Regions from separate parts of the Homo sapiens genome. Here region 1 is linked to region 2. The links come from fine-mapping of genetic effects on gene expression. A gene starts in region 2. The other region holds a variant in brackets. All regions are shown on one strand. Distances are from middle to middle.

What was found.
Region 1: its variant is fine-mapped to the expression of FERRY3 in monocytes after LPS (Kim-Hellmuth 2017, PIP 0.95).

Annotation. Positions count from the first base shown.
Region 1 is chr12:4,486,867-4,489,741 of GRCh38, reverse strand. It overlaps FERRY3 (FERRY endosomal RAB5 effector complex subunit 3), which reads left to right. Exons shown (of 14, transcript NM_020374.4): 14 at 1-2,007. Among named protein-coding and RNA genes, the nearest start is that of FGF6, 42 kb to the right of the region's middle. The variant T/G (reference allele first, on the strand shown) is at 1,427.
Region 2 is chr12:4,536,719-4,539,640 of GRCh38, reverse strand. FERRY3 (FERRY endosomal RAB5 effector complex subunit 3) reads left to right here and starts at 1,172. Exons shown (of 14, transcript NM_020374.4): 1 at 1,172-1,232. RAD51AP1 (RAD51 associated protein 1) reads right to left here and starts at 751. Exons shown (of 9, transcript NM_006479.5): 1 at 685-751. The coding sequence starts at 701. RefSeq lists enhancers at 319-927, 928-1,537 and a silencer at 1,143-1,192.

The DNA of each region.
Region 1 (2,875 bases), 50 kb after region 2:
GGGAATCTGTCAAGCAAAAGATGCCCAGAAAGAGAACTTGCAGCTCAATCCACAAATCAAGATACATGTGTGTGAAACCATTCCAAAAATTTATATACTGCACAAACTGGTGATCAACCCCTAACTTAAACACTTAAAGTCTCTTTATGAATTTCTCTTTTTTTCTTCTCTGTGTTACCTGTGAATATTAGTAATCTAAAACTTTTTATTTATCACACATGGACACTTGGGAAAGGAAACTTGATTATATTTACATGGAGGCATTTGACTTTTTCAAGAGGCTTGACTCGTCTCAGGTGCAATCCTTAATTAAACATACAAACAAAATTTTCCTTTTACTTTCTTTGCCAAAACAAAATGTAAAAGCACTGAAATATACATTGCAAGTACAAATTTCCTGTGAAAATCTTTTTATAGAAACACAAATGTATAAGACAAATGTGCTTGTTCTTTTAAATTCTCCTGTTTCAGAATCTCTTTTTAATCTACTCCTAAGGATGTACAAGTTAGAGTCAGAAGACGTTTTGGATTTTTTCCCTCTCTCTCATCCTCCCGCTGTGCCCTTGCACTTGCATATTAATAACATTTCATGGACTGGGAAATAGTGTTCTTTTTTGCAAGCTTGATGTCAAGTTAGTCTAAACCAGCACCTGGCAGTATTTTAGTGCTCATCAACATTGTGACAATCACACAAGGAAGATCATTTCTACATTTCTGTCCTCCCTGCGTTCTCAGCTTGCTTAACCATTCCTCTACCTCTTGCATTTTTTTGCGGATAAATGTATCCCCATTTCTGCTTCTCTGTTTCCCCTCCTTTTCCATTGTTTTTCCTTATGGTACTACTTTCTCAGGTGCTACATATCATATATTTGTCCCATCTATAACATATTTAAATGCTATAAGTAGTAACTCCATTAAACAAAGGCATTTACAAAAGCACACAGGTGTTTAGAAAAGCAATAGTTTCATCAATTCCAAGTTATGTGGATATTGTAACTGGCCACAAGAATGAAATGGAGGGCATTTGGTGTCATAAGATGGCATGTCTTGATGACAAGAAACAAAACGCCCTTCATTAATATGCCTCAGTGTAATAACTATTATAGAAACTGTTGGCAAGCAGAGTGCTTTCCTATAACAGAATGTGTCTTAATTTTCTACTCGAGGGAAAGGTTTGTCCAGGTAACAACACTAAAGACAACCCTAAGAACACCCACTCCAGCAGTATGTCCATTAGACACTAAAACTCTCCAAATTATTTGTCAGGGAGCCTGGCGATTCTGCCAAGAAGGCAGGTGTTTTGCCCTTAGAGCCTATACAGTTCTCTTGGAGAAATTGTCTTTCAGGCACCACTGTTAATCACTGAGACTGATTCTAATGCAAAGCAGGGAAGACAGAGGCAGAAACCAGGAGAGTGGTAGATCAG[T/G]GCAGCCCAGATATCGGAATGGAGGAGCAAAGTTTCATTCACGGATGTTTGTTGAATGCTGCTGCCCAACTCTTCCTTTGTCACCTCTAGGCTATTCCACTAAGTTACTTATAAACTGGTGGCTTTAACTGAGGGCTGTGTAAAGGTACTATTTGGCATGTGAAGTCAGGATAAATTTATCGAATGTCCGTTTTCCACATGCAACTGTGTTACAGAAGTAGTAAAATTGGAAGAATCATGTTTATGGTGTTACCACTGATGGAAACACACAAACACCAAGCTAATAATAAATATATAACTTAAAAAGCTAATTATATGCACTGAAATGGTGGGAATTTTAGTGATGCAGTAATTGAGGAGTCTGGAGTTTTGTATTTGGACCAAGAATTATGAGATGAGGATCTTTTTCTGAGTGTTCTAAAGGGCTTCTTGAGGGGGAGTGGTTTAAAGCACTTCATGAATGATGTGAAGAAGGTACCTTGGGCTGAGACAGCATTCTAGGTACAGATGGCACTCTGTTCAACCAACTGTGGATGGAAAATATTCTGAAAAAAAATACAATAAAAATTTTAAAAATACAATATAACATCTGTTTACATGGCATTTACATTGTATTTGGTATAAGTAATGTATAGACGGATTAAGTATATGGGAGGCTGTGTGTAGGTTGTATGCAATTACTACACCACTTTATATGAGACTGGAGCATCCAGGGATATTGATATTGGCAGGGGGTCTGGAACCAGTCTCCTGCAGATACCAAGGGACAACTGAGTAAGGCGCAGATAGGAGCAGAAGCAGAATGGAGGCAGTGGTAAATGGCCAGTAAGTTGAGAGGAGCTGACCACGAGAGTCTTTGAGGATGGGGAGATTAGCACAAACATTGACATTGGTGAGGATTGTGAGTTAGAAGTTTTCTATTTGTATAAACAGTTACATATTCCTAAATGGCCCTCAAGGCCTTAAGAGTGTGCTTTGGAAATCAGGCAGAGGCACTGAACCTGAGGTCTCCATTCTGTGCTGCTCTTTCCCCCCCTTCCCCCATTTCTGCTCTCGAAGCACCACACAAGCAAAGCCATTGATCTAGAAGTGTGGCACCAGCTGTTTCTCAGCATGACAGTGTGACCAGAATGGAAGAAATGCATGAAAAAGAATTTCAGCGGGAAGAAACTGAGCTTGCCTGGGAGTTGGCAGATCTCTTATTGGCACAGTACACACCATCATTTGTGTTACTTCAGTTGGATCCTGGCTAATTCTCACAAGAAGAAAACATGTTTCACAAAAGAAAGATGAAATCACAGAAACATTTCTTTTCTAGAGGCTCTAAGGGAGAATTCACAGAACTGTAGAAAGAACCCACTAAAGTTAGAGACGAGCCTCAGGCCTATTTTTCAGTTTCTTTTTATTTTCTATTTTTCAGTTTCTAGGTGAAAATGGCTGCTTTTCTGT
Region 2 (2,922 bases):
ATATTAACTACTATATTTAAAGTAGTGCTTTCCTCTTTCGCACTCTCATATTTCGAGGCTTATTTTCGGCCCCCTAACCTCACCTCCCACTGGAATGTAACCTCCAGCACCTCGTACACTAAAGAAGTGAATATATTCAATAACTTTATTAAATGAATGGCTAACTATAGGCTTCCATGGCACTCAACTGTGTAAATAGAAGAATCGTTTCTAATACCACGATGGAAAGCACAGAGGATCTTGAGTGAGATGACTTAGGTTTGAGTATTGCCCTGCCACTTACTGGGCTGTATGACTCAGATAACTTACCCTCTATACGTAGAAATGTTAAATCAATACAACAGGAATGCTTACTCTTTCTATATCAAATAACTACAGTGATAAACAAATAAAATAACACATAATTGGGCGCTCGGTGAAATGTAAAGCGCTGTTCAAACGCTAACAAGGTCTTGGTAAAAGAAACGGCGACGGTTGTGAAGGGAGGCAAAGAGAAGGAAAAAGCTACGATGCTAGGATACTTCTGAGCAACGGGTGGCTCTCACTGGAGACTGGGTTCTTGATAACCGTCCATCCTAACCCCACCATCGCTGCCCTCCGGTCTTACTCGATCCTTTCCCCTTAGTCTCATGTCTTTTCCCTTAGTTTTCCTCCCACCCCCGACGAATGTCAGGAACTACCCACCTCACAGGCCGCACCATGGTCCCTTTCAAGGCTTGGTATTTACAGTTCTCAAATTCTTGTTGGCTTCAGCGGCGGTTTCAATTCCCGCCCAAAACCAGACTTCGGAGCCCTCCGCCCCCTGTTACCAGTCGTCCAATCATCACCAGCCATGCTTGCGGCGGCGCACGCGCTGTGGGGAAAGCGAATTTGCTCCCGCCCTCCCCAAGGCACCGCTTTTCCGTATCCGGTCCACCAGAGCCGAGTTTGTGCTTTGTCCCTGCACTTTCGTCACAACGGCGGATTTGCCCTGTCTCTGAAATACAGAATAACAATAGAAATACACCTTATTGCACCTTTCAAATTGTTAAATTGAAACAGGTTGGGACATAGGGGCACTTGGACTGAGAAATTTTCTACAAGATGCCAGGAAATAGAAAAGGATGTGGCGAATCTACGTTCGCGGATCCGCGGTGTGGAAAAAGTATGTCGGCAAGTCAGCTGGTTTCCCAGTGCAGGACGCGCTGACAGCTCGAGTGAGCGGACTGCCCAGGACTTCGGAACTAGACGAGGTGAGCCCAGAACCGAGTGAGGATGCCCTTTCAGACTGACAACCGTTACAGAGGGATTAGTCCCCTCACCCGGCTGAAGTTTCTCAGCTCGACCGTCTGTCTTCCTTTTCCCTGATTAATGTGAGCCTCAGAGCCTCCGCTCTGTTGGCTGTGTGTGTTCGGTCCAGACCTTCCATCCCATTTTCTTATGGGAAACCTTCCTGGATTTCACGGTTGCTAAAACTGAACCCAGGCTTCAGGATAGACCATTAGTCTAAAAAAAGAGCGAGAGGAGAAAGAACTAAAGTTATCAGTTTCTTGAAACACAAGTCTAAATGTTGAACCAGAGCTTTTGTGTCTGCCTTCTCTTTTTTTTTTCAACATTCCTGATTCATTCATATTTTTGCATTTATCAGTGGTTGATTCTTTTTTATTGCTGTGTAGTATTTATCTCATAAAATAAACAAGTTTACTATTCTCCTACTAATACGCATTTTGGTTGTTTCCAGTTTGGGGTATTATAAATAAAACTTATATGAGCATTCTTCTGGGTGTACTTTAGCGAACATATGCGTGTGTGTGTATTTGGATATATACTTAGGAATGAAATTTCTACATCATAGAATATACCTTTATGTAGTTTTGGTAGTTTTCTAACATTATAAAAATTTGTATTGCTTTACGTTTAATTTTAATTCTTTCTGAGTAAAACAAATACCCTATCTCTTTGCATTATGGTGAAATAGACGAAGATTTTTGTGTATAGCCTACATACAGATTTGAAAATATAGTCTGGATAATTCAACTTAGCCCCGCCCCACGACATGTACAAAAGTCCTTTGAGTTTTTTTTATATTTCAGGTGATATCTTTTTAAATAACCGTATGAATAATTTTTTGTTCTTTATTTTTCCAGTGAGCACCATAAAATAAAAACGCCATACAATCCAACAATTATTTATTAGTTCTTGCCATTCGCAACATCCTGCCTAATACATGGAATACAAGACAGTATTCCTTCCACTTCAAGAAGACTGTTTTCTAGCCAAGAGTAAGAAATAGAGCGTGATAAGTGCCATGATTCAAATAAGTCTAGGCTAATATGAGAGCCTGTCGGGACCCAATCCAGTTTTAGGGAGTTGGATAAGTCTTCCTAGAGGCTTAACTGAGACCTGAAGAATTAGCAATTGTTATCCAATGAAATTAAGATCAGTAAGAGTGCTCTAGGCAAAGGAAAAGGCATTCAAAAAGATTCGGCATGGAAGGAGAAGTTTGGTGTTGACAGAAGTTCAGAATGGCTGGAAAATAAAATTTGTGAATTTGTGTATTAGGAAGGAGAGGTGCAGTTTCTGAGAGAAGAGTGGAAATATAAGCAGGGGTGTTGTAAACTGGGATAAAGAGTTTGCATTTTATCCTGAGAGCAATGGAATGTCATAGAAAGTTTTTAAGCGGATGAACAACATGATCAGATAAGTATATTCCTTTTTTAAAAAGGAAGATTACTATAACTTCAGTGTAGAAAATAATGTAAGAACTGATTTGATGGGAGAAAGCCTAGCCATAGGAAGTCCAGTTACAAGGCTGATGAATAAATAAATCTTTAATTGATGTTGATTCTTACTGCCTTTAACTAGATTTTCTTCTTCCTTAGTAGTGTCTAGTTTGCCTTTGGGGTGTGGGCCGGAAGTGGAGGTCCTGTACTCTCTCTTTTC